Homo sapiens: one gene and its partners. The protein of the gene in region 3 interacts with the protein of the main gene of each other region in a pairwise test. Each region holds a gene or a part of one and is shown on either strand. Other genes may lie near its edges.

Region 1 (7,412 bases), on a different chromosome or scaffold from region 3:
AATGGACACCCCATCCTAGTTCCCTACACCACAACTCCCAGCTCCACCTCACTGTGAGTGCTGAGCGCCTCACTGCCTTGCCCCACCACCAGGTTGCACTCCATGTCAGCCAGTAAGTCTTACCCTTTGGGGAGATCTCAGCTATAACGAAAATTAATTAAAAATGAGGTCCCTGTCTTTAGAAAGATGTGCAAACCGCCAAGTTCACATCCAAATTTGGGGGCGTTCCCAGATCCTTGTCACTGATATCAACCGGAAGAAACCTTGGACAGTGTGATTTGGACTGCTGGCTGCCATCCTCCTCTCCCCTACAGGATGAGCCTTGGAGCTGGGTGGGTCCCCCTAAATCTAGTATGCAGCTTGGTCCTTCTCTCTGTTGGCCAAGGCTGAACAGCTCATGTCAGCCACCACTCTGGTTCACTGCCCCTTTCCTGAACACCTCACAGGCCCCTGGGTGATAGACTCCTGCCACTACTATCTCCTTGCTCCAATCCATCCCTCCCTTCTCTCCTCTCCCCAGAGCGGATACCTGCTGAGCCGCATGTGAAGAAGGGCTTCAGTCTGTTCTCCATGTTGCTCAGCTTCTGCTCCAAGGCCCTCCTCTGTTGCTCCTCACTTTGCAAGGTCTCCTTCGTCTTCTGTCTGTCTGCCTGGCAGGCCTGTAGCTGCCCTTCGGCCGCCTGATGAGCCCTCTGTTCCACCTGTAGTGCTTCCTGACTCTGCGCCAGCTCTCTCCTGGACCCCTGCAGATCCTCTGCACTCTGTCCCAGCTGCGTTATCTTGAGGCGGAGCTGCTGCCTCAGGCTGCTGTTAGTGACTTCCAGAACCCTGTTCGTCTGCTGGAGCTGCTGAGACACCTGCAGATCTGTTTGGCCACAGAGATTTGGTGGATGTCTTCTCCAGCCCTGCCCTAGTGCCCTGAGACTGCAGCATCAGCCCTTTTTCTGCTTCTTGCAACTTTTTGCATCACAGGCTGAAATACAAGATTTGACTGACTAAAGCGTAAGGAGGTACTGGATTAGGTGAGGACAATTCAGGAAGACAACAGCCCTGGCTGGAAACCAAACCCAAAGCTAAGGAGGTGGTGGTAGTGACTATGATCCCTGCTGAGGAAGATCAGCTTTGGGGCGAGAGTCGGGACGAAAGTCGTTCGGTGTAAGTGGGAAGTAGGGACAGCCTTACTCACAGCGCACTCCCAGGCAGATGGCGGTCACTCCTAACAGCAGGCAGGTGAGGAGCAGGCCGAGCAGGAGGTATCGCAGGCAGGTTGTGCGGCCTTAGGGGGACAGTGGGATGGATGAGGGCAGTCAGCCCCCGTAAAGAATGTAGAGAGGAAGGGACAGGTCCGTGGGGGAGACCCCTGGGGAAGGCATCCCTAAGAGGAGGGCGGTGCAGAGCTGAGGGGGCAAGCATGGTGGTTTCTGTCGGGTAGCGGGGTGTTTCGCAGGTAGGGGAGAGGGTGTTCCAGAATCAGTGCTGGTGGGGACTCGGGGGCGTTACCTGGGAGAAGGGGAAGGAAATATCAGACGGAGAGAGGGGAAGGGGGGCAGGTAGGTGAATTGGGACCATCCGCAGGGGGGCGGTGCACGTCGGATTCAGGCGCACCGGATGAAGGTGAATGTGGCACGGCAGCCCGGGCGTCGGAAGGACTGCGCCCGGGTTTATCCCGGAAGGAGCTGCACCCCGCGGGGCCCAGCGCCATCCGCAGCCGGGACAGGCGCGAGCACTTGGCCCCGCGGCTGCCCCGCACAGGCACACTCACAGGGGAGAATCCGCCCGACAGCTGGTGACGTCACGGCTCTCCAGGACGCAGTTGGCTGCTCCGACTTGACCGCTGTCGAGGGGAGCATCCAGTGTGAGACCGGAAGCCCCGAGTGTTGCCCCTTCTCCTCCTGCGCACCCGCTTCGCCCTCGCCACTGGGAAACTCCAGTCTGCCCTACGTTGCCTGCTAGAGCTGCTCTGGGACACAGTGTCACTCTCCTGAGTTCCTCCTCTGCCCGGGACTCTCTCGGCTTCCTCCTGGGTCTCACTGTATCTTTTCCCGGGACCCCCTCATCTCTCCTAGTTCTCCCTTTATCGTTTCCTCAGAGGCCCCTTATCTGTCGGCTCCAAACCCTCTCCCCCTTTGCTCTCATCCATCTCCCATCACCTCTTTTCCCTCCCATGGCTCCCCGTTTCCCATTAGAACTCATCCCCCACAGGGCTGCCCTATCCCTCCGCAGCCCTTATCTCCCCGAAAGGGGTCTCCACCTTGCGGGAGGAATCTTTCTTCCTCCCCTGGCTCCCATTTATCCTGTTCCTATTCTTCTGTTTCCTAAGAACCGCCCTCCTCCTTTCCCCAGGGTATTGTGCTCTCAAGAATACTGAGGGCCATGGCATGGGGGCGCACGCCTGCAATCCCAACACTTTGGGAGGCCAGGGCAGGAGGATCACTTGAGCCCAGGAGGTCGAGGCTGCAGTGAGCCATGATCACACCACTGCACTCCAGCCTGAGTGACAGAACAAGACCCTGTCTCAAGAACAACAACAAAAACATTGTGGACTCCCCAGCTCAAGACACAGCCCCCCAACAAACACACATCCCCCAGGCTCTCCAGACCTGCTTTGTCCCCTAGTACAGAAGAAGCCAAGCTTGAGGGCACCCCTAGGACTGCGGGCACTTGAACATTCTCGTAGGTGATTTCCCCATCATCATCAGCCCCTGGGTCTAGAGAGAAGAGAAAAGGGACCAAGGTGGGATTTGGGAATGGGATCTGTGGGGCGGGAAGTGGGGATGCAGGATCAAGGGGAGGCCTCATCCCCCTTACCCTGTCCTAACCGGCTGGAGATGCTCTTCTTCAGGGGAGCCTTCACAAACCTCAGATCTGCATAGGTGATGGCCTCAGCCATGGTCCTGAGCAGCTCTGCCCCCACTCGTCTTCCCTGTCATCCACTGTCCTCCCTTGCCCCTCTCGTCTCTGTCCGTTTACAACTAGGCTCTGTGTTCCCTCTGTGACTGCACGGCTTAGCAATTGGCCCTGTGACTTCCAGTCACAAAAGAGGAAGGTGTTAGCAAGTCTCAAACAGATGGGCTCAATGAAGCAGAAGGCATCCCTGGGCCAGGGCCAGAGGGGCCACGGAGGGGACGCTGAGGTCCAGAACACAGGGGTAGGGGATGGGCCTGTCCCCATGTCCTCCCTGTGCTTCCTCTCCATGCATCTTAAACCCATATGGGCCATGCTGGGCCCCAAACTCGGTCCTTCTGGTTATCTGCCCTGATCTGCCCCACCCTCCTCCTGGCTGCCTTGTCCACTGGGGCTTATGATGTGTAGCTGGAGCTGCACTGACCCAGACGATCTCCCCAGCTCCAGGGTGAGGCTCCGTTCTCCCCATGAGACTGGGGGTTCCTGGTTTGCATCCCTCGCTTCTCATCATCCTGGGGGTTCCAGTAACTGGGGGTTCAGGAACAGGCCTGGGCCAGAGGTGAAGGTAAGGAAGAGCCATGGCTGCAGCACCTCTGGAAAGGCAAGTGGCAGCACTGCCCCCCATGCACCCTCATGGGGAGCCAGGGAGCAGGTGAGCAAGGGAGTTGCAGAGGGCTTAAGAAGGCTGCAGCTTCCTAGGTGAAGTCAAGGCAGAGGAGCAGAACAGAGCCAGAGGCCGAGCGCAGATTCCGGACCAGCGGAGGTCTTGACATTTTCTTGGTTTGGTTTTGGTTCGTCTCTTACTTTCCTAGCAAAGTTCTTTCTTTAAAAAGTCCCAAAGCTGTCCCTTCCCACCCAGCCCCAAGGAAAAAGGGGGCATTTGTGGCGGAGGACCCAGGGACCGCGAGGCCCTCATAGGTGGTGGGGGCCTGGCTGATGGAGGAGAGAGGGAACCAGTTGGGGGAAAGGGGGCTGCTGAGCAGGGGTGCCCAAAGGTGCTCCCTAATGTTCTTTTACCGGGATGTGACCCCTACTAGGAACCCCAAAATGGCCTACATCCGGGATAGGAAGGAGCTAGAACAAGATGTAGTGTGGGGGTGGGAAGAACCCGCCCCTAGCAAAGTGACATCCGCCCCGCAGAATCCCCCTCCTGCAGCTGTGGGGAGGAAAAAGGAAGGGGGAAAAGGTCCTCACCACATGCCAACAGCTCGGATGATTGGTGGTGTGTGGCAGGACACTGCCAGGGACCCTAGAGCTCTGCCAATAGCTCCGCCCAGCCAGCCCTAGAGGAAGTGGCCACTGAGGCAAAGCTGTGACCTCAAAAATGTACTTGTAGAGAGGCACGTGTGCATGTGTGTGCATGGATATGCATGTTCCCAGGACTTTGCAGTCTGTTAGGGCATCTGTGAGGTGAGCGGCTATGTCAGAGCCTGCCTGGAGGAGGAAGCCTTCTGTGGGCTGAAGGCTGCCTGTGATCACTGTTATTTTCCATGGCAGAGAATGACGGGTCATTTTCAGAAAAGTCGTCAAAGGTCATCACAAGAGATCCTACAAGTATTTCCTTTTTGAAGCTCACTGTTTCCTAAGGTGCCTCTGCAGCTGTTAACTGTCCTTGCTTGATTAAAGTTTCCAACAACCTAGACCTTCCCCCAGATACAGAGAGTGGTATGTGGTGGTGACTCCCTGGGGACCTCAGGGGCCCTGAGAGTGAGTGGGAGGGTATAGAGCAGCTGGTGGCAGGGGTGGGTGGGGTGGGAAGAGTCAAATACTTGAACCTGTGGTGTACAGGGGGTGGGTGTGGGCAGTGTGTGAGTAAATCAATTGCAGGAACATTTGCAGGAGTTCCACAAACTGTAGAATGTCCCAGTTTTCAGATCCAATACACAGGTGAACATGATGTAGATGCCAGGTAAAATGCCAAAACCAAGCTTCTAGTCTGCACTCAAAAAGGTGTCTGTGGCCAACATAGTGAAACCCCGTCTCTACTACAAAATACAAAAAAATTAGCCTGGTGTGGTGGCTCGAACCTGTAGTCCCAGCTACTCAGGAGGCTGAGGCAGGAGAATCGCTTGAACCCAGGAGGTGGAGGTTGCAGTGAGCCAAGATCACACCATTGCACTCCAGCCTAGGCAACAAGAGCAAAGCTCCATCTCCAAAAAAAAAAAAAAAAATGGAATACATGGGCTTGCTGCCTAACTTGACCTGTAGAGAGGCTTAAGAAGGGGATCTCCTGGCCGGCATGGTGGCTCACACCTGTAATCCCAGCACTTTGGGAGGCTGAGGTGGGCGGATCACCTGAGGTCAGGAATTTGAGACTAGCCTGGCAAACATGGTGAAATCCCATCTGTATTAAAAATACAAAATTAGCTGAGAATGGTGGCATGTGCCTGTAATTCCAGCTACTAGGGAGGCTGAGAATTGCTTGAACCCGGGAGGCAGAGGTTGCAGTGAGCCGAGATTGTGCCCATCCTGGGCCACAGAGTGAGACTCTGTCTCCAAAAATAAAAAAAAATAAAAAAAAGAAGGGGATCCCCAGATGGAACTGCACACCGCAATATCTTGAATGTCTTAACCAGGCTTGTTCTATATTTTTCTCCTCTTTAGCTCTTTTGGTGATGGTTACATATCTTTTCATCACAGGCCGCATTCGCTTCTGTCTTAGACCAGCTTGTAGCCTTCCTTTGTGAACAGGGTAAGAGAGTAGGATCCTTCCCCTTCCCCACGTGTGTCACTTGGGGTCTTTACAGTTTTGACATTCACATTACATTTAGAGGCTGGACATCAGAAAAGATACCTGTAACTCCAAGCTGTACCTCTACTGCCCAAATATCAGGGAACTTTTAAGAGGTGAGGGGTCAGTGCTGTACATTTCAGCTTTTCCAGAACCATACTATCATCATCTGAGAGCCTGGAGGGCAGACACTAACACCCATGTTTTGCCCTCTCCTGGCCTCCCCACTACTCATTACAGGGAATGGGTGTTTACGGTTGACAAGAGGAGGGGGCCCAACCATGAGGGCATCAGATAGAATTTGCCATGTGGAAGGGGGCTCACCTGATCAACTTTGTGTCATTGATACAGTCTATGTCAGGACATCGGGAGCATCTCCTAAGACTCTGAAAGTCAGGCTATATCTGTCTTCATTACTTTAACCCACTGGCCTCCGGGAAGCCCTAGTTTACTGACAGGGTGTGGTAGCCAGAATAATGGCCTCCCAAAAATGTTCACACCCGAATCCCCAGAACCTGTGACTATGTCACTTTACCTGACAAAATGTAGATGTGGCTATGTTAATCAAGGTCCTTTAGATAGAGAGATTATCCTGTTTTATCTTGGTAGGCACACTCTGATCACATGAGTCCTTGAAAGGGAGAACCTTTCCCATCATGGGAAGAAAGAGATTCGGTGAGGGAAGGAGGGCCAGAGAGACGCCACAGGAGAAACACTCAACCCATAGGTCCTGATTTTGAAGGTGCAGGAAGAGGACCTTGAGCCAAGGAATGCAAGAAGCCTCTGAGAGCTGGAAAAGGCAAGGAAGCAGATTTTCCCCTTCAGCATCCAGAAAGGAACCAGCCCTGCAGACACCTTGACTTTAGCCCAGTGAGACCTGTGTCGACCTGATCTCCACAACTGTAAGACAATAAATTTGTATTGTTTAAGCCACCAAGTGTGTAATTTATTAGAGCAGCAAGAGTTTCGTGAACTGTGGAGGAAGCATGATGTAATAGAAAGAATAGGGAGACTCTGGTTAAAGAGACCAGCCTTGCCACAGTATGTGACTTTGGGCAAGTGACAGTTTTCCATCTGTAAAATACAAGATAGTCTGACCTCAATCAAGAGTATGATTGCTGGAGACACACTAGGTGTGGACTTTACAAACGCCTCTTTAAAATCTGTCACAAAGGCTTCAGAGTCAGGAGGGAGAAAAATGGGCCACCTGATTGCACCATGAGGGAGACTTGGATTTCTTTGATCACTGAAGCCAAAGAGTACAGATAGGTCTTCGGTGACTTGCCCCAGGCCTCTCCTTGGTCCTGCCTCAAATGGTGACACAGAAAGCACGTTCTCTGTGCTTAATGGCACAGAGCTGAAAAGCAAATACATCAAAAGGCCAACTCAAGATTCAAGCCTTGCAACAAGGCAAAATGATGGCTCCAAACCACAGAATGAAATGTCATAAAAATAATAACAGCAGGCCAGGCACGATGGCTCACGCCTGTTATCCCTTGGGAAGCCAAGGTGCACAGATCACAAGGTCAGAATTTCGAGACCAGCCTGGCCAATATGGTGAAACCCCGTCTCTACTAATAATACAAAAATTAGCCGGGCATGGCGGCGCACACCTGTAGTCCCAGCTACCCAGGAGGCTGAAGCAAAAGAATCGCTTAAACCCGGGAGGCAGAGGTTGCAGTGAGCCAAGGTGGTGCCACTGCACTCCAGCCTGGGTGACAGAGCGAGACTCTGTCTCAAAAAAAATAATAATAATAATAATAATAATAACAGCAAA
Region 2 (7,024 bases), on a different chromosome or scaffold from region 3:
GCAAATTGAAATCTCAAGGGTTAGTCTCCCTCTGCCTTCTGTGAGGTTCTGGAGGCTGGAGTCACTGAAGTGTAATATAGAGTCAGTAAATGAATTACAAGTATAACAGAGTTTGACACATGTCCCACCCCATTTACTTTGATATCCTAGAGAAAGTGGTCTTACATCTTTCTTCCTGGCCCCGCGCCCCATATCCCTGTCCAGAGGGCAGACCTAGAGCCAAATCCTTACTTCATAGAAGAGCAGATTCTGGAACCCCAGGGTTTCTGGGAAGTGGAGAGAGAACAGGATTGGGCTAGAGGGTATTTTGGGCCTCTTAATGTAGCACTATGGGCTTGTGCCTGTCTCTGTAGGAATGTGACTCAGTATATGTGTGTGTGATTGTGAGGGTCATGACTGTATATAATGGGTTTGAGTGGGTCGTGTGTGAGAGAGACTATATCTGTGCCTGTCTGTATGGAGATCTGATTATGTACGTGTGTATGTGTCCTGGGGTGAGTCCCGTGGCCTCTAAGATTCCATAGATGTCTGTGTACCCTCTGGACAGGGATATGGGGTGCGGGGCCAGGAAGAAAGATGTAAGACCACTTTCTCTAGGATATCAAAGTAAGTGGGGTGGGACATATGTCAAACTCTGTTATACTTGTAATTCATTTACTGACTCTATATTACCTGAGACAGAGACCCAGCCTCAGTTTCCTCATGTCTGAAATAGAATTGATTAGCTGGGCATGGGGGTATGCACCTGTAGTCCTAGCTCCTCAGGAGCCTGAGGTGGGAGGATTGCTTGAGCCTAGAAGTCTGAGGCTGGAGTGAGCTATGGTTTTCTCACTGTACTTCAGCCTGATGACATAGTGAGACCCCCATTTCTAAAAAATAAAATAGGGTTGATAATTCCTGTCCTGCTCCTTCCCAGGGCTAGTGTAGAGCTCTAGGTAGAAGAAGGATAGGAAGGTAGTTTAGGGAGGATGATGAAATGTGAGGAGCAGAAGGAGGAGGAGGAAGAGACTGTCAGGTTGGAAGGCAGGGCAGGAAATGAACTTAACCTAGGGGCTTTAGGTGGAGAAGAGGCAGATTCTGCGCATGGACCATTGGGGTCCCTCAGAGTTCTGAAGGCCCCAGCCAGCTGGATCCCCACTTCATGTAAAGAGCATCTGCTTCAGAGAAATGGCTAGGATTAGCAGTGGGGTCTAGCTGTGAGTATGGGGTGGAGCCCCACTTCTTTACTTCATGTGACTGGAGTTTCCTCTCCTCCTGATTTGTCAGTGGGTAGACATGGGTGTTGAGGTATGGACACCCAATCTGATGAGACCTGGGGCTGGGAGCTATTAGAAAGAACTGGACGAAAAGGGCGAACAGGCGATCTGAAGGGAAGGAGTACCCTTTTGTGACCTAGTACATGACCTAGTACCTATTATCTCAGATAATGCATCAGATATTCCTGTTACGCTAGCCACTCCTGATCATCCCGCAAAACCCTGCCCCGCTAGCTCTAAAATGTCTTCCCTATCCTCCTTGGGGCTAATGTAATCACTCCCTCCTCTGGGTGCCCACAGTTCCCTGTGTTATCTATCACATCATATTTGTGTCTGTCTTCCCAACCAGATGGGGATCTCCTTGAAGGCAGGCACTGCATTTGAGTGAGAAAGTATTTGGGTTTTTTTATTTGTTTTAGAGGCAGGGTCTCATTTCCGTCACCCAGGCCAGAGTGTAGTGGCATGATCATAGCTCACTGCAGCCTCAAACTCCTGGGATCAAGCAGTCTTCCTAACCTCAGACTCCTGAGTAGTTAGGACTACAGATGTGAGCCACTACACCCAGCTTAATTAAAAAAAAAATTGTGGAGATGGGGTCTCGCCATGTTGCCTAGGCTGGAGTGCAGTGGCATGATCATAGCTCACTGCAGCCTCAACCACCAGGGCACAAGTAATCCTCCTGCCTCAGCCTCCTGAGTAGCTAGGACAATAGGTATGCACAACCATGCCCAGCTAATTTTTGTGTATGTGTGTGGAGACGGGGTCTCACACTGTTGCCCAGGCTGGTCTTGAACTCCTGACCTCAAGTGATCCTCCCACCTCGACTCCCAAAGCACTGGGATTATAGGCGTGAGCCACTGTGCCTGGCCAGAAAGTGTTGGTTGAATAAATGATTAAGACTCCCTAGCCCAGTGCCCTGGGGAAAGGAAGGCATGGTATAAGTCAATCATAGTCCAAGCAAAATTATAATATTTGTATAGTATATGGAGTTAAACAGACTAGGCTGTTTGCTCTGCCCCTTATGGCTGACCCCAAGGGCTGATGGCATCAATACCCTATTAGCTAGGTTATTGCATACCTTGCATACCTATTACCTGTTCTGGGCATACCAGTTAGGGAATTAAGATATAGATAGTTGCTGGAGTACTTGGTCCCTCTGGAGCAGTACTAGGTCTGTGACCCTGAGGGTATGTTGTCCCCACTGCCTGAGCCTACGGTGTTGGTTCCACCTTGGAATTTTTATATTTGCTCTGAATTTCCCACTCAGAGTATCCCAGAAATGGCCAGCCCTAGGAATAAAAGAAGCAAGCTAGTCCATCATATCTGTAATTGATTACTTTGCCTCTGCTCGCATATCCCCAGTGATGGGGAGCTTCCTTCCTCCCCAGGTAGCCTGTTCTAAGGAAGCTTAATAACTAATAATTAGCCTTTTTCTTTTATTTTCTTTCTTTATTTTTATTTAGATGTAGTCTCACTCTGTCGCCTAGGCTGGAGTGCAGTGTTGTGATCTCAGCTCACTGCAACCTCCGCCTCTTGGGTTCAAGCAATTCTCCTGCCTCAGCCTCCTGAGTAGCTGGGATTACAGGTGCCCGCCACCACACCTGGCTAATTTTTGTATTTTTGGTATTGACGGGGTTTCGTCATGTTGGCCAGGCTCGTCTCGAACTCCTGACCTCAGGTGATCCACCTGCCTTGGCCTCCCAAAGTGCTAGGATTAAAGGCGTGAGCCACCATGCCCAGCCTCTTTTTTTTTTCTTTCTTCTTCTTTTTTTTCTTTTAACAGAGATAGTTTCTCACTATGTTGCCCAGGCTGGTCTTCAACTCCTGAGCTCAAGTGATCCTCCTGCCTCAGCCTTCCAGAGTGCTAGGATTACAGGCTTGAGCCACTGTGCCTAGCCCAAGCTTTTTCTTTCCTTCTTTCCTTCTTTCCTTCTTTTCTTTCTTTCTTTCTTTCTTTCTTTCTTTCTTTCTTTCTTTCTTTCTTTCTTTCTTTCTTTCTCTTTCTTTCTTTTTTTCTTTTTTTCCTTCTTTCTTTCCTTCTTTCTTTCTTTTCTTTCTTTTCTTCCTTTCCTTCCCTTTCCCTTTCCCTTGCCCTTTCCCTTTCCCTTTCCCTTTCCTTTCCTTTCTTTTCTTTTCTTTTTGAGGCAGGGTCTTGCTCTGTTGCCCAGGCTGGAGTGCAGTGGCACAATCTTGGCTCACTGCGACCTCTGCCTCCTGGGTTCAAGCCATTCTTATGCCTCAGCCTCCCGAGTAGCTGAGATTACAGGCATGCACCACCGTGCCTGGCTCATTTTTTGTATTTTTAGGAGAGATGGGGTTTCACTATGCTGGCCAGGCTGAAGCTTTTACTTATAGTGAGTATGTACTTACTTTCCGGTGAGTCTCTGCCTTGGCCCTGGCTCTGCTTTGCCGTAGAACTATTCTCTCCTCGTGGCTTCAGGTCAGCCCTGTAGAGACAAGAAGACAGTAATGAGGGGCCTTGAGTCTGTCTTCTTCTTTTTTTTTTTTTCTTGAGATGGAATCTCGCTTTGTCACCCAGGCTGGAGTGCAATGGCACGATCTCGGCTTACTGCAACCTCCGCCTCCCAGGTTCAAGCGATTCTCCTGTCTCAGCCTCCCGAGTAGCTGGGATTACAGGCACACCGCCACCATGACTGGCTAACTTTTTGTATTTTAGTAGTGACGGGGTTTCACTGTGTTACCCAGGCTGGTCTCGAACTCCTGACCTCAGGCAATCCAGTTCCTTCAGGCAACCTTCCAAGGAAATGGTTTCCAGGCTCTTCCCTATCCTGAATGTACCGTTGAACTTGGCCCAGTTTGTCACTGTTCTCTGCTGGGCCTTGATTTGGGTATAGAACTCCAGGTGGCCTGGGCAGTACAGGCAAAAGCAGGACTATTCATTCTTATTCCTGGCTGTTAGACCTCTGTTGAGGCAGCCTGAGCTGCTATTAGCTGTTTCTGCACAGGTACAGGCTGAACATCGATATCTCATATTCAGGCTTGTTGAGATCTCTTTTGTATCCTGCTTCTGTCATCATAGGATTTAGCCATTTCTCCAGTGAGGCCCAACAAGCCCTCTCAGTCCTGCTCTAACAAAAAACGGCCAGACCCCTTTTTGCTTTCTCTCTTTCCCTTATTGGAAACCTGCCTATGACCCTGGATACAACTCTCAGGAAGGTCCCTGCCCCCATCACTGGCAAAGAAGCTACTGCCAGCTGACCTCAGCCACTATCACTTCTTCCCTTTGCAGAGTGTTCTAGGATTTATGACATATGCTTGTTGATCCTGGGAAGGATGTGTGCCTGGGCAGGCGTGGAGAATTGGGTACTGTGGGCGGGAGGGCAGGCCCTGAGGAGCAGGGGGTGGGATCCTCCAGTCTTAGAATAGTCCCAGTCTGGCTACAACCTTCAACCCAAGACCCGGATTCTTCAGCACCGAGTGTGAGTGTTCCTTCATGAGGCCCCCACCCCATTCCTGGGTCTCCTTAGTGGAGGGAAGTATGAGTGCCGAGGGGAGATTGGGTCCTAGGCCTTTTAATATCAAGCCATCTCTGTCTGCCTCAGCTTGATCCAGAGGGAAGCCCAGCTTGAGGGGTCAAGGTGTTTGGGCAGTGGGGTTGTGAGGGGGAGTTGTCGGCCAGGAGGGAGAAGAGATTGGAAGAAGCTCAGTTCCCTGGGTCTGGGTCTGACCTGGACAGAGATCTCCTGGGTCTGGCCCAGGACAGCAGGCTCAAGCTCAGTGGAGAAGGTTTCCATGACCCTCAGATTCCCCCAAACCTTGGATTGGGTGACATTGCATCTCCTCAGAGAGGGAGGAGATGTAGGTCTGGGCTTCCACAGGGACCTGGTATTTTAGGATCAGGGTACCGCTGGCCTGAGGCTTGGATCATTCAGAGCCTGGGGGTGGAATGGCTGGCAGCCTGTGGCCCCATTGAAATAGGCTCTGGGGCACTCCCTCTGTTCCTAGTTGAACTTGGGTAAGGAACAGGAATGTGGTCAGACAGGGTCAGTGGGAGGGCTTTGGCCATTCTGAGCCAACGGTCCTTTGTTAGTTGGCCTGAAAGAAGCCATGACTTAGAACCTGAAGCTGTCAGGTGGCAAGAGGCCTTAGTCCTGGTGTTTGATCCTGGCATAGTTCTGGGCCTCAGTCTCCCCTTCTGTGAAATGGGAATAATAACCTTTCTACCTCTGACCCTTCTCCTGAGTGGCTATGAGGGTTGTGAGAGTGAGGTGGGCCACCAGAGCTCCCTGTCCAAGCCACCGGGAGCCTCTCTTCTGTAGGCTCTTCAAGAGGTGGACCTAGAGTATCACTGTGCCAGGGGGATTCCTAAGCTCTGACCCTGCCTGTCTCTGCTGCTCCTGCCCCATCTCCCTCTGATCCTTCTCCTCTGCACTGTCTTCCTTTTCCCCTTATGCCTTTTCTACCCTTTCTGCTCTGGCTTTTCCTTATACTCTGAGGAGCCATCTCTGGAAAAGGCCCCACTTTCCCAGACCCAGGTGTCCTACCAGGCCCCAAGTTGTATCCCTCGTGCTGCTTAGGCCACGCCCTGCAGGATGTTCTCTGCGGCCTCCCAGCCTTTGGACCCCGATGGGACCTTGTTCCGGCTTCGCTTCACAGCCATGGTCTGGTGGGCCATCACTTTTCCTGTGTTCGGCTTCTTCTTCTGCATCATCTGGTCCCTGGTGTTCCACTTTGAGTACACGGTGGCCACTGACTGTGGGGTGAGTGCCAGCTCCCCAGCCCCTGGGTCAGGGCCAGGTCAGGAGGTGGCAGTTAGGGTAGAATTAGATAGTGGAGAGGAAGTGGAGGATCAGAGAGAGGGAAAGGGACAAGGGGATGGGGGAAGGGTAGGTAAGTCAGAGTCAGAGATAATTCATGGGGGGAGACTCAGAGAGAATAGAATCACAGTCCTCCCTGAGTTGGAAGATGATGATAGAAATGCAAGGGAGATGACGGGCGCAGTGGCTCATACCTGTAATCTCAGCACCTCGGGAGGGCGAAGCCAGTGGATCACTCGAGTTCAGTTCGAGACCAGCCTGGGCAACATGGTGAAACCCCGTCTGTACAAAAAATGCAAAAAAATTAGCTGGGTGCCCTGGCATGCCCCTGTAGTCCCAGCTACTTGGGAGGCTAAGGCAGGAGAATTGCTTGAGGCTGGGAGGTGGACATTTCAGTGAGCTGAGTTCACACCATTATACTCCAGCCTGGGTGACAGGAGTAAAACCCTGTCTCAAAAACAAAACAAAATAAAAAAAAAAAAACAGCAGGCTGTGCACTGTGGCTCATGCCTGTAATCCCAGCACTTTGAGAGGCCGAGGTGGGAGGATCACCTGAGGTCAGGAGTTTGAGACCAGCCTGGCCAACATGGTAAAACCCTGTCTCTACTAAAAAATACAAAAAAATTAGCTGGGCATGGTGATGTGTGCCTGTAATCCCAGCTACTCAGGAGGCTTGAGGCAAGAGAATTGCTTGAACCCGGGAGGCAGAGGTTGCAGTGAGCCAAGATCGTGCCAAAAAAAAAAAAAAAAACAATAACAGTGCAAGGGAGTTGGGGGTTAGAGGGAGGTGATAGGGGAAGAGAAGGGATTGGAATGGGCAGGAGAGATCATGAGAGGAAGGAGGCAGATTGGAAAGGAAGCCAGGACTGAGGAGGTAAAATGAGGCCAGAAGATGGGAGATGTAACAAGTGGCTTTGGCCCAGACTCGGGGACTGACCTTGGAGGATCCATCCTCAGCTCTGATCTGGATCCTCAAGCTTTGTTTCTCCT
Region 3 (7,060 bases):
CTAGGACAAGGGAACAGAGAAAAGAGAATAAAGAGAATTTACTATAGTTTAGAAATGTGGAGGAGAGACTCTATGGAGCTCAGGACTCAGATCTGAGGAAAGGATACTGGTATCTTTAAGGAAGTGCATAAGGCTGATTCTAGCAGAGTAGGAAAGCATAAACTGGAACAAGTGGGACCAACTATTAATGCCAGAGTGAGGCACTATTGTGGCAAGTGACAGACAAGAAAAGGAATCAACAGGAAGCAGCAAGTCCCTTCATCCTCTTCCAGCTTTCCAGTCTCCCTCCCTTGTTGGCAAAGCCCAATGGGCAGTCAGCTTGCAAAGAAGAAATGTAGTTTAGAGTTCTGCCCTAGATTCACAAAGCAGAGGGTGGTATGAAGTTGAGGTCAACAGCTTAATAAACTGTGGTCAAGAGGAGGCCGGGAATAGCTACTGGAGTCATGGTCCCTGATTATTTGAAACTGTTAAAGGATGTAAATGGACTTTTGGGCTTCTTTGTGCTCAGTGCCTGCAGAAAGCTATCAGAGATCACAGAAACCACCACATGGTGAAAGAAAAATACTATATTTCCAGTTGCATGCTTCTTTGCTATTGCTATTGGGATTCCAATAATCATATGCTCCTGTTTTTTCTCCACTCCCACACAGTGCAGGCAGACATGGCAAACAGTGGAAAGAAGCAAATAGTGAAAAACTCAGAGAAGTACCAAGGGAAAAACCATGACAGAAAACACATGAACAGTAGAGATGGTATTATGGGAGGTTAAAACAAAACAAAACAATGACAAGGGTGAAAAACATGCGTATTAACTAGTTTACCCTTCTGACTGGGGTACTATTGGTACTATTAGAAAGATGTTTTTATGCGATTTAGATGGTGTCCAAGTTTTCATCATTTCTAGTCAATAAATACATGGCCTTGGCTTAAGTTTGCAAATAAACATAGTAAAAAGTTTATCTACGTGGGCAAAACTAACTCGGATGGAGAGAATGGTTGGGTTAGGCACAAGATGACTGGTTAGGCCTAAATTAGGATGGAAGTGACTGGATTTACATGGTCTTGTGGCCTCAGCAGTGCTTAGCCCAGACTTCCAAACGTTCTATAATTACATGGGCTTCCACTCTTGTAAAAAGTCTTACCTAAATGGGGTGATTTGGCAATTATTAAATTTTCAAACCAAGTCTTAAAGCTGGCAGAGCCAGGATTTGAACCTATGTCTGACTGACTCCAAAGTCTGTCTGTTAACCACTACAAACATGAGGCTCCTGACTACCCTCTTCCCAATACTAAAGATTGATATCTAAGATATCTAATTAGTTGGCCTATTTAAAATAAAAATTAAAGCACATAAGGCAATTATCAACTAGTTACTATTTTCCTTAGTGGAGGAAAATTATGCTTCATTAAGAGAATAACACTAACATTATAGTCATTTAAAAATCTTGTGTTAAGACTGCTTTTCTCACATGGGCAACACCTTCCTCATTCCAATTACAAACTTTTGTGTAATGAACATTAGCAATAAAATCTGATGGGTCAAGAATAACCAATTGTGTAAGATTGGTCTTTGTTTTCCAATCTTACCCCCACAAATAAGGAATTTGTATTTCCAATCCTCACCCACATACAAGGCAAGGAATTCTATGCTCTATTGCTGGTAGGGTGAGGAGCAGTGTGGACAGGTTAAAACTTTTGTCACTTCCTAAAGATGGCATATATTTTCAGAAACCGACAAGGGCCCGTGTTCTTTAAGGCAATCACATATATGTGACCAAAGGCTATTTTAAAACTCGTTTTACGTAGCCTTCTTTATTCACTAACATGTTCTCTGCCCCTATGCTCATGCTGTCTTCTCTGAGATGCTTTTTCTTCCCTACTATATACATTTAACTCCATTTATTTTTCAAAATGCTCATTCTCCAAAATCCAGCTCATGTCCCTCTTCAACAGAGTCCCCTCTGACCTCTTCAGACCATGGCTGTTATCCACTTAGAACTGCTGTTTGATCTTTTTGTAACTATTATCATCTCAAAGGGATTTTGGAGGCTGCAGCCTAGAAAAACTGTTGTGGGCTAGTTACACGGTTTCAACTCGTTATTTACAAGGCTTGTCTAAACATGATACAATAGCATCTCCTCAAGAGAGAAATTGAACCTCTAGGCTAGAAGAATTGCTCAGCGGTTATCTAACAGACCATTCTCCTTGTCTCCAATAGGCAACTGTCCTACCCTCGGTGTTACATATTTCTAAGGTCTCTTCCAGCTCTAAAATTATGATTTTACAATTCTATCGACTAAATATTACTTCAAAAGGTGTGGAATGTATACAGAAACCATTAAATTCTCAAACGGTAACAGTTCAGTTACAAGTTACTCTGAAAGATCTGAGGCTAAGGGCTCCATTCAGGTCAGAATCACAACTGTTAACCTCGCTTACTGTCCAGTCTGTGCACTGTAGCACAGGTGACTAACTCATCCAGGACACACAGTAGGCCCGAATCCGGGACAGAAGCCTACTAGAGAAGCACTTTCTCCCAACACCAAGCCCAAGCCCAAGCCCTTCCTGGCTGCTTTATCGCCTAGAAACAAAGCTGAGTAAAACACCCCAATGCGGTACCACCCCAAGATGCCCCAGCGACACGGACCAAACGGTGATGCAGGGCAGTGACGCAGGTGCAGCGTCCACCTTGTTTTCCTCCCAGAGAAAGTCGGAGTTCTAGGCACCCGGGGACACCGAATCCCCGACGTCCTCCGGCCCGCGGCCCTCCGGCTCCGGTGCCCCCTGCTGCTCGTCGCGACCCCACTCTGGCGGTATCCGCCCCTTCGTCTCTCACCCCTGGGACACTTACCATCCCAATACCAGGCCGGTGGTCACGATGAAGCAGGTAAAGACCACCGCGATGTAGAAAAGCGGCGAGTATTCATAAAGCGTTACCAGAAACACCGCAGCCATCAGGGTCTTGCTCTGGGTAGAGCCCGGCTCCAGCCGCGGAGCCCAGCCCAGCCCGGCTGAGCCCCGCCCGCCCGGCCAGGGTAAAAGCCACTACAGTGCCCCGGAGCGGACAAACTTTGTAGGTCCGCACTTGCCTGGGGTTCTCATGAGCTAGACTTTAGGGCAGCCTCGCGGACAGCGGGAGCTGGCGTGCCAATCACGGCGCCCCCTGCCGGACACGCCACGCCCCTCCCGCTCCCGTCCCGAGCTATTGGCTACGCAGACCTGGGATGGGGGGGGCCCGACTCGCACCGCCCCCGACTCCCAGGATTGGTACCCAGCGGGCGTCTTAAGCGCTGTGGCCCAGTGGTCATTGCTGTTCCGCCGGCAAATTCTAAGTAGACTTTGGGGCCAACTCTGTGCCAGCCTTAGGCAATGTAGGTTTTCTGATGTCAGAGAGAGGCGCAGTCTGAAATCTACGTGCATCGTTTCTAAATCCTGAAACCCTGCCTATTATATCTTAGGCAAATTTGGGAGAGGGTGGAGGAGGAGGAGGAGGAGGGCGGGCATCTTGGATTCTACAAAATGAAATAACCATAAGCACAGTGAAAACACAAAAAAAGGAGTCTCTACCACAAGCAATTTATACGAGACTTGTCAGCCTTTTCAGATTGGACTTAATCATAGAGGAAAATCAGCATTGCTTATCCAAGATTCTCTTAGAAATAAAGCATCCGCTTCCTCCCACATCCCCCTCCTTTTCTCCTCTTCTTGTACTCCTCAAATTAGAATTAGCCAAACATTTGAAACTGTATTTGTTTCCACTTTAAGAATAATTTTTAAAAAACTTTTTAAATCACACAGAAGCTTTTTAAAAATTACTGAAAGTAGCTAAATGGTCACTCCCTTGTCTCAACCCTGTGAGTCAGCTCCATCAAGGTGGCCTCCCTGAAAGTCTTTCATAACAGTTCATTGACACCTCGTTGGTTTGCATTTACTCCTAAAGCCACATCTAGCCACATCAGAGAATGGGGATATGTAGTCTTATTATTCGTGAGCAGCAACACACCCTGGTACAAATCAAGAGTTTTGTTACTGAGGAGGAAAGAGAATGGACATTGGGATAGTTAACTAGTAGCCTCTGTCACACTCCTAAATCACCAGTAAAATTCGTGTTGAGAAAGATGAACTAAGTTTGTCCTATGGCCTCACATATTCCTTGGCAAATGAGCACGTAGTCTCTGGAGCAGCACTGTTTGAGAAGCTTGCTTCTACAACACAATTTTTAATTACTATATATCTGATTTGTGAAAATATATACTTTAATCAGCCCTCAACTGTTGGAGAATTTTTCATTGCTATAAATAACACTGCAATGAACATCCCTACAGCTAAAGTATTTCCTTAGGATAAATTACTAGAGGTGGAACTATGGTTTTAAAAAATGTACATTTTAAAGATTTTGTAAAAACACTGCTCTCCAGAAATGTACCAATTTGTATTCCCAGTTTTTCATCCACAGTTTTGCCATCATTTGATATTGTCACTTAACAAAAATATTGGCCAATCTGAAAGGCTCCCTTCTCCAGCAAGCCTTCCTGGATGCTTCCAAACCCTTGGGGAGATGCCTCTCCCAAAGCACCCAGTATGTAACTGTATGGGAGCCCTCTTATTTCTGGTGTGAGCACCTGCTCACTAGTGTATTTAGCCTGCTAGGAACCCAGCTCTCTGAGCACAGGAATGACACATAATTGATGTTTGTGCCACCGGTACCTAGTATATGTCGGGTAGTCATATTACTGAATTAATAAATAAATGAAATAAGCTTTTCTCCATGAGATTACTTGGAAGCACAAAGTATCTATATTAGAGTTTTTTAAAAAAAAGTTTGACTCTCAGATGAACAGGAAGAATGACTGTTCTTTATTATCTATAACTGATCTAGTTTAGCTTGAAACCCCACCCTAGACCCAGCATGGTGGCTCATGCCTGTAATGCCAGCACTTTGGAAGACCAAGGCCAGCACTTTGGGAGACCAAGGCAGGGAGATGGCTTGAGCCCAGGAATTGAGACCAGCGTCAGCGACATAGTGGGACCCTGTCTCTACAAAAAATTAAAAAATTAACTGGGCGAGGCAGAAGGATTGCTTGAGCAAGGGAGGTTGAGGCTGCAGTGAGCCACGATTGTGCCGCTACACTCCAGCCTGGGTGACACAGCAAGACGCTGTCTCAAAAAAAAAAAAAAAAAAAGCAAAGCAAGAACCTGTCTCAAAAAAGAAGAAAAAGAAAGAAGCCCCACCCTACTATTAGACGGGGTAAAAAGAGAAGACAATGTGAGCTTAAATTTATCAATAAAAAGTATCTTAGGCCGGGCATGGTGGCTCACGTCTGTAATCCCAGCACTTTGAGAGGCTGAGGTGGGCAGATAACTGAGGTCAGGAGTTTGAGACCAGCCTGGCCAACATGGCAAAACCCCATCTCTACTAAAAATACAAAAATTAGCCCAGCATGATGGCGGGCACCTGTAATCCCAGCTACTCAGGAGGCTGAGGCAGGAGAATTGCTTGAACCCGGGAGGTGGAGGTTGCAGTGGGCTGAAATTGTGTCACTGCACTCCAGCCTGGGCGACAGAATAAGATTCCGGCAAAAAAAAAAAAAAAAAAAAAGTATCTTAGACTCTTCAAGTTTAATTGCACCTTTTAGGAAGCTGGTCTCCTTTAGGAAAATGTTTAGTCTCTCCTCTCTCTTCTCTTGATTCTTCCCAAGACAGTATCTGATTGTACAAGGTGTTCATATGACCTGATGGTGGAGGTCAGGAAAATGAGACCTCAGCTCTGCATGACACCTGTAGGTCCTCACTAAGGGGAAGCGGGTTTCATCTGGCTTTTTGTGGTACCAGGCCAGCCCTCACTGCGGAGATCCAGGGTTCCAGCCATTTACCTCTGGTTGTAAAACCCTCATAAGCTATGGCTCCTTAGCTCCACTAGCTCACCAGACTGCTTACCATCTCCAATGTTACTTACTGGGGCAATATGTAAACATGTAGATTCTCACATATGTCACATGCAGGCTACTGAGAAGCAGCAGTTATCTCAGGATGCCCAATCAGGCTACCTCTGCCACTGAATGCCATTGCTCTAGCACCATGGTGAAGGTGGTGTGAAGCAAGCCAAATGTAAGGCCTCTCCTCCTTTCCTAGAGGGAAAGTGGACTACCAGCTCCGATCTCTTCAGTTTCTCCAGTACCCCACCTATTTGTTTTTTAATTTTTTTTTTTTTTTTTTTTTGGAGACAGAGTCTCATTCTGTCGCCCAGGCTGGCGTGCAGTGGAGCAATCTTGGCTCACTGCAACCTCCACCTTCTGGGTTCAAGAGATTCTCCTGCCTCAGCCTCCCGAGTAGCTGGGACTACAGGCACCCGCCATCATGCCTGGCTAATTTTTGTATTTTTAGTAGAAACGGGGTTTCACCACATTGACCAGGCTAGTCTTAAACTACTGACCTCAGTGATCTGCCCGCCTTGGCCTCCCAAAGTGCTGGGATTACAGGCGTGAGCCACTGCACCCAGCCCCAATACCCCACCTATTTGGGTGCTTCCGCTACAACCACCTGCTTCCCTGAGATTCCAGCCTGGAGGGATGTGGGGACAAAACTGTCTTTATTTTATTTTAATTTTTGAGACAGGGTCTTGCTCTTTCACCCAGGCTGGAATACAGTGGCATGATCACAGCTCACTGCAGCCTCAACATTCTGAGCTCAAGTGATTCTCCTGCCACTGCCTCTCAAAGTGCTGGGATTACTTACTCTTTATGTAGAAACATCGCTGGAAAAGATGGTCCCGATGCAGACCCTAAGAGCAGGTTCTTGGATCTCGTGTAGGAAAGATTTTGAGGCGAGTCAGAGAGAACAGTGAAATAAGCAAGTTTATTGGAAACTACTCTGTTACAAAGTAGGAGTCTTCAGCAGGAGAAGGAACATTCCATTCTTTTTTAGTGCCTCTATACTTATAAGAAACTAAAAGGAGCAATATTAAACTTGGAACATGCAGATGTGCTCACTAAAGGTAGGGGCTATTGGTGTTACAGGTGACCATTAATCAATCCTTCAACCCAAGCCTCTTAGTTAATGG
Region 4 (7,024 bases), on a different chromosome or scaffold from region 3:
GCCAAGTGAAAAAAATATTTCAAGGCTGAGGGAGTCAGCAGCTGTGGAAATGTCTCTGGTGCTCTAATGAAACCATATCATTGGTGAACTTACCAAAAGAAATGTTGGTAGAGCCTTTTTCTAGGTGTGACACCTAATTTGGAGGAGGTTTATAGAGAAAATGAGACAATGCTTTTGTGATTACTTTAGGAGAGATGCAGGCTAAAGGATTTAGGGGTCAAGTTTTATGATGTTTCAAACTCACTTTCAAATAGGAAAAATGTATAGATGCATATATATTTATATTTTTATATATAAAGCAAAAATATTTAAAATTGGTGAATCTAAGTGATATGTAAATGCATAATTCTTACATTATTTTTCAACCTTCTGTATGTATTTTTAACATTTTTCATAATTACAGGATGTTGGGGAAAAGAGTAGACAGATGGCCGGGCGTGGTGTCTCACGCCTTTTATCCCAGCACTTGGGGAGTCCGAGGCTAGTGGATCACCTGAGGCCAGGAGTTCGAGACCAGCCTGGCCAACATGGTGAAACCCCATCTCTACTGAAAATACAAAAATTACCCAGGCGTGATGGCACACGCCTGTAATCCCAGCTACTTGGAAGGCTGAGGCAGGAGAATTGCTTGAACCCAGGAAGTGGAGGTTACGGTGAGCCAAGATCGCAGTGCCACTGCACTCCAGCCTGGGTGACAGAGGGAGACTGTCTCAAAAAAAAAAAAAAACCAACAAAACCCAAATAAGAGTGGACAGACAGGAATTGGAAACTATAAAGATAACTCTCTCAAAGAACTTTGCTAGTTAAGAGTTGTTTTTTCTGTTATTTTGTGTGTGTGTGTGTGTGTGTGTGTGTGTGTGTGTGTGTATGTCTGTTTTTTTGTGAGAGAGGATCTCACTCTGTCACCCAGGCTGGAGTGCACTCTTTGTTTACTTCCATCCCATCGCGAGGCCAGGTTTCGCCAGCCTGTTGTGAGAGGACATGTTAGGTGAGGCCATTACACCTAACCGTAGCTTACTGCAGCCTCAACCTCCTGGGCTCAAGCAGTCCTCCCACCTCAGCCTCCCAAGTAGCTAGGACTACAGGCATGCACCATCACACCCAGCTAATTTTTGTATTTTTTGTAGAGACAGTGTTGGGTGGGGTGTTTTGTCATGTTGCCCAGACTGGTCTCAAACTCCTGAGCTTAGGCATTCCTCCTGCCTTGGCCTTACAAAGTGGTAGGATTACAGGTGTGAACTACTCCACCTGGCCTGTTTTTTTTCCTTCTTTTTGAGTCAGTGTCTCACTCTGTCACTCAGGCTAGAGTGTAGTGGTATGATCATAGCTCACTGTAACCTCGACCTCCTGGGCTCAAGCAATCCTCCCGTCTCAGCTTCCCAAGTAGCTGGGACTACAGGCAAACGCCACCTCACTTGCCTAGTTAAAAAATTTTTTGTAGAGATGGGATCTCGTTCTGTCGCTTGGGCTGGTCTCGAACTCCTGGGCTCAAGTGATCCTCCTGCCTCAGACTGCCAAAGTCTGGGATTACAGGCGTGAGCCACCACACCTGGCCTGTTTTATTTATTTATTTTTCTTTTTGAGTCAGGATCTCACTCTGTCACCCAGGCTGATCTCAAACTCCTGGGCTCAAGCGATTCTTCTGGCTCAGCCTCCCAAAGTTTGGGATTACAGTAGTGAGCAACCACACTTGGTGGGGTTTTTTTTGTTTTGTTTTGTTTTGTTTTGTTTTTTAGATGGAAAAAATTTACCACGTTTGTAATAATCTAGAGAGGAATAATGAGAGAAAGAGAAGGAAAAGAAGATACAAGAAAGCAAAGAGAGAATTGCAGCAGCCATTTCCTGGATGTAGTACATGGATAGGGGAGGAATCACCCACAGACAGGAGCAAGGAGAGTTCACCTGTGGTGTCAGGTGGGCAGGCAGAGCATGTGGGTGCAGGTACTGGTCACTGCCCAATGTGGTGTGCATCTATAAAACTCTTCTGCTTGCTTTAGTTTTTTGTTTTTTTTTTCCCCCTAGAGACAGTGTCTCACTCTGTCTCCCAGGCTGGAGTGCAATAGCACAACCATGGCTCGCTTCAGCCTTGAACTCCTAGGTTCAAGTGATCCTCCTGCCTTGACCTCCTGACTAGCTGAGACTACAGACACACGCCACTGTGCCCGGCTAATTAAAATAATTTTTTTTGTAGAGACAGGGATCTCACTATGTTGCCCAGGCTGGTCTTGAACTCCTAGCATCAAGCGATCCTCCTGTCTCTGCCTCCCAAAGTGCTGAGATTACAAGCCTGAGCCACTGTGCCCCAGCCTGCGTAAATTTTCTTTTTTTCTTTTTTTTTTTTTTTGAGGCAGAGTCTTGCTCTGTCGCCCAGGCTGGAGTGCAGTGGTGCAATCTCGGCTCACTGTAACCTCTGCCTCCCAGGTTCAAGCAATTCTCCTCCAGGCATGCGCCACCATGCCCAGCTAATTTTTGTATTTTTAGTAGAGGCAGGGTTTTGCCATGTTGCCCAGGCTGGTCTTGAACTCCGGAGCTCAAGTGATTTGCCCATCTCGGCCTCCCAAAGTGCTGGGATTACAGGCATGAACCACCACGCCCAGGCTTAAATTTTCTTAGTGAAATGGGAAGCAAGGCCCCTCCCTCTGCCAGCAGTTAGGGGAGGAGGTGTGAACTAGCCATTCAGGCAGTGGGAGAGTAAACAGAGCAGGAATGGATCATAGGAACACCAGGTAGCATTCAGCTCCCCACTTGAGGATCTGTTTCTGATGTGTTAGTTCAGGGGCCAGTCCTTCCTTGAAACAGCCAAAGATTAAATGGCCTCGTGAGGTTCTTTCCTGCTTGTGTGCCCACTTGAGGGTGCATGTGGTACAGGAACACTGGACTTGGTGTCAGATGGGATGAGCCCTGGCTCTGTTTCCTAGCAGCAATCTGATCTTGAGCTAGTCACTGGACATTTCTGAACCTCAGCTTCTGCAGAATGCAATGACATCTTCCAATGTAGCTCTGTAGTCATTGTGTAGACCACAAGGTTGTACAGACGGCAGGTAATATTCTGGAGAGCCAATTAAGAATGTGAGCCCTGAAGTCACAAAGCCTGCATTTGAATCATAGTTTACCCGTGTAACACCTCTGTTTCCTCATCTGAACAGTGAAGGTTCTTGGCCTCAGTTGAAGATGTGAGCATTTAGTCAGTGGTGCTACAACAGCCGTGGTTGACAGATGAAGTGTTCTCAAGGACCAAGCACAGGGTTTGACACTTTAGGCTCTGATTCATGTCCTGCCAAGCTGGGCCTGGAGGAAGCCCCCAAGCCTGGCTGGCAGCTGTTGTCCCAAGTGAGGGGGACAGTAAGCCAGGCCAGCAGTCCAGTTCAGGAAGGGGCCCACTTCAAAGGAGTGGGTCAAGAGCACTGTTTGCCTTTCTGGAGTGCTGGGCTGGGGCAAAAGGACCTGAGAGCTGAGGTGGTTCACCCAGACACCTGGGCAGATGACTAAAAGATGATTGTCTTGTCTGGGAAAGAAGCCAGGATGTGGTTTGGGTGGAGCTGGGTAAAGAACCTGGGTTTCAGAATCAACTTCTTCCTTGTTGTGTAGGAAAAGGCGAGCCAGACTCAGGGAACAGTGGGACCCACTTCCCGGCGCTGTGCAAGTCAGAGTTCCTTGTAAGCAGGGTCTGGGCCTCACTTATCATGGATTTGCCCTGGTGCCTTTCACTATTGGTCGAATTGAGTATTTCGGAAGGAGAACTTGTTTAAAAGACAGCCACCGCCCACACATTCAGAATCCATACTATCCGTCTATTACAGTGGAGTTATCCATTGTTTTCGCAGCTGTCTCCCTCTCTCATAACAACAGCTGTTACCCATATTCTAGCATCCACCCATTGCTGTCTCCATTCCTATGGGTAAAGTGGAGTTGCCTGCCTTCTCAGTGCCAGGCTGACCACAGTGCCATGGGGCACCACAGGCAGGTCCAGAGCCTGGGCCAGGAATCAAGAGACCAGAACACTGGTCTTGACTGGCCACTAGCTGAGTGACTCTGAGGTTGTGGGCAAATTATTTCCTCTCTTTAACCTTCTAAACTGGGGGAGCCTTGTTGCTAATAACTTGGCTCACACTGGCCAGGTCTCTCCTGGGCCAGTGGTGAGAATTCTGAGAGTGTGGCTTTGGCTCTTGCTTTCTGTGCTTTGACCAGAAGTTGCAACAACACTTACAGGTTCATTCTTGCCGACCTGAATTCGGTAGCGAGAGATGAAGTTAGGTTTTCCTGTTGTGTCAACCACCAATAGAAGCCCATTGAAGCTCCAGAAGAAGAGACAAGGCACTTGGATGGCACCTGAGATTGGGAAACAGAAACAGTCAGGGCGACTTTGGGTTCTCACAGCACATAGACTAACAGAACATACTTTTTTGTGGTGACTGAGGCTTCATCCTAGACATTTCTTTGCCAGGGAGGTCTTAGGGCTTGGGACCAAGGGGTTACCTGTAGTCTTGGGTAGGAACTTGGACAGGCCATTTAAGGAGTGTCTCCATTTTCTTAGCCATAAAATAGGGACAACCTTCAAGGTGGTTGGTGGTTTTCATATAAATACATATGAAAGTATGTTAAGATATATAATACCCTCTAAAATAGAAATGAATTCAGGTTGACATTTGGGAGTCTGCGCCCACTGAACCCTTTATGAATTGCCAAGGAAGGAGAAGCAAAGGAAGTACTCTGTATGGTATGGGTCACAGTGAGCCCTGGGCTAGGAGTCAGTCAGGAAACTTAATCCCTGTCATCCTACTAACTGAGCAGCAGAACTTCAGGTGTCATCTAGTCAGTATAAGTGGAAAACTCATCGTTGTTTTTTTTTTGTTGTTTGTTTGTTTGTTTTTTTGAGACAAAGCCTCTCTCTGTCATCCAGGCTGGAAGTGCAGTTGTGTGATCATGGCTCACTGTAGCCTCGACCTGCCAAGCCGAAGTGATCCTCTTGCTTCAGCCTCCTGAATAGTTGGGGCTACCGGCACCTGCCACCATGCCCAGCTAGGACTCGGCTTTGCTTAATTCCATGTCTGTGCCCCTCCACCAGCACCCTTCATGCTCCATCAACCGAAGTAACTGTGGCGGCTGGGACTTGGAAAATACTTGCCAGCACTGTAGGGGAGTAGGATTGGTACAAACCTTCTAGAGGGCAATTTGGCAGTAACTGAAGTAATAAAGTGAGAGAGTCAGAGAGCCAAGACAGAAAGGGAGAAAGAAGAAAAGGACACACGTCTGTTTGTATGCATAAATGTCCGTCACAGCATTAAAAAAAAAATTTAAGCAGCCTAAATACCCATTAGTAGGGAAGGGACTAAACAGATTAGAGTATTTCCATATAATGGAATAGAATGGGAAGCTTAGAGTATTAAGTAAGGCTACATTAATAGGCATGGAAAGATACCTACAATCTATTCAATGAAAAAAAGATTTAAAAATAGTTGGTATCTCATAAGTACAACTATATACCCAATATATAAAAGATGCACACTAATATATAAACAGTGGTTATTTCTTGAAGGTAAGACAGTGGGTGATTTTCACACTTTCTATGCTTATTTGAATTGCCTGATTTTTATTTTTAACAATGAGCACATATTTACTTTTGTTTTTTTTTTTTTTTGAGACAGAGTCTTGCTCTGTCACCCAGGCTGGAGTGCAGTGGCGTGAGCTCAGCTCGCTGCAAGATCTGCCTCCCGGGTTCACGCCATTCTCCTGCCTCAGCCTCCTGAGTAGCTGGGACTACTGGCGCCCGCCACCGCGCCCGACTAATTTTTTGTATTTTTAGTAGAGACGGGGTTTCACCATGGTCTCGATCTCCTGACCTCATGATCCGCCTGCCTCGGCCTCCCAAAGTGCTGGGATTACAGGCGTGAGCCACTGCGCCTGGCCCATATTTACTTTTATACCCAGAAAAAATAAACTATTTTTTACTTTGGAAAAAAAAGGCTGATGGTTACCCAGTGGGCCATCCAAGGTGTCTACCTACTTGGAACTTCAAAGGCTGCCTGAGGAATACAGATGAAAAGCACACCGTAAGACGATCTTAAACTTCTTCTAGCTCTAACACTTAAAATTGGAAATATTTTCTCTCTCTCATATTGGCTTATCACCAAGGTAATAGGTAATTTTCACAGGATTGTACCTAACATATATAAAATATTTGAGGTTTTTTTAGATTGCAGGTTCAAGCTAATAAAGTTTTTCTACCACCTTCTCCATATACATAGGTAATCTGCATTGTTCAATGACTGCTTAAGATCCCATTAAATCTGTCATATTTAATGTTCAGCCCATTGTCAGAGTCCTCCTTCTAGTTGAAAACAATCCTCAGGTGCATTTTGCTTTATAGCAACTGACACTTTTTATCTTCCCTTCTAGACTATGACATCATTTTTTAATGGGGGAGGGAAACATTTCATTTAAATACTTCTTTTTTTTTTTTTGAGACAGGGTCTTGCTCTGTCACCCAGGCTGGAGTGCAGTGGTGCTATCTCAGCTCACTGCAACCTCCACCTCCTGAGTTCAAGCGATGCTTGTGCCTCAGCCTCCTGAGTAGCTGGGATTACAGGCACGCACCACCACGCCTGGCTCATTTTTTGTACTTTTAGTAGAGACAGGTTTCACTATGTTGGCCAGGCTGGTCTTGAATTCCTGGCCTCAAGTGATCTGCCTGCCTCAGCCTCCCAAAGTGCTGGGATTACAGGTGTGAGCCACTAATCTTGGCCTATCTTAATTTTTGTTTTTTTTTTTTTGAGACAGAGTCGTGCCCTATTGCCCAGGCTGGAGTGCAGTGGCACCATCTCGGCTCACTGCAACCTCTGCCTCCCAGGTTCAAGCAATTCTCATGCCTCAGCCTCCTGAGTAGTTGAGATTACAGGCACGCACCACCACACCCAGCTAATTTGTGTGTGTGTGTGTTTTTAGTGAAAAAGGGATTTTGCCATATTGGCCAGGCTGGTCTCGAACCCCTGACTTCAAGTGATCCACCTGCCTTGGCCTCCCAAAG

What was found.
Region 1: the proteins of CGRRF1 (region 3) and CD72 interact in binary tests that used the Homo sapiens proteins (3 or more experiments, as listed by UniProt).
Region 2: the proteins of CGRRF1 (region 3) and PGAP2 interact in binary tests that used the Homo sapiens proteins (3 or more experiments, as listed by UniProt).
Region 4: the proteins of CGRRF1 (region 3) and FAXDC2 interact in binary tests that used the Homo sapiens proteins (3 or more experiments, as listed by UniProt).

The regions. Positions count from the first base shown.
Region 1 is NC_000009.12:35,615,414-35,622,825, forward strand, and holds the start of CD72 (B-cell differentiation antigen CD72), read right to left. Parts: upstream 3,001-7,412; 5' UTR 2,891-3,000; coding exon 2,809-2,890; intron 2,709-2,808; coding exon 2,601-2,708; intron 1,835-2,600; coding exon 1,763-1,834; intron 1,277-1,762; coding exon 1,187-1,276; intron 974-1,186; coding exon of another isoform or gene 933-973; exon of another isoform or gene 866-932; coding exon 530-865; intron 1-529. UniProt on the Homo sapiens protein: Co-receptor of B cell receptor (BCR) that plays both positive and negative roles on B-cell functions. Recognizes the Sm/ribonucleoprotein (RNP) self-antigen ligand, and coligation of CD72 and BCR inhibits BCR signaling.
Region 2 is NC_000011.10:3,811,559-3,818,582, forward strand, and holds part of PGAP2 (acyltransferase PGAP2), read left to right. Parts: intron 1-3,626; exon of another isoform or gene 3,627-4,528; coding exon of another isoform or gene 4,529-4,696; intron 4,697-5,746; coding exon of another isoform or gene 5,747-5,794; coding exon 5,795-5,977; intron 5,978-7,024.
Region 3 is NC_000014.9:54,505,855-54,512,914, reverse strand, and holds the start of CGRRF1 (cell growth regulator with RING finger domain protein 1), read right to left. Parts: upstream 3,010-7,060; 5' UTR 2,956-3,009; coding exon 2,852-2,955; intron 1-2,851. UniProt on the Homo sapiens protein: Able to inhibit growth in several cell lines.
Region 4 is NC_000005.10:154,826,594-154,833,617, forward strand, and holds part of FAXDC2 (fatty acid hydroxylase domain-containing protein 2), read right to left. Parts: intron 4,330-7,024; coding exon 4,208-4,329; intron 2,948-4,207; exon of another isoform or gene 2,865-2,947; intron 1-2,864. UniProt on the Homo sapiens protein: Promotes megakaryocyte differentiation by enhancing ERK phosphorylation and up-regulating RUNX1 expression.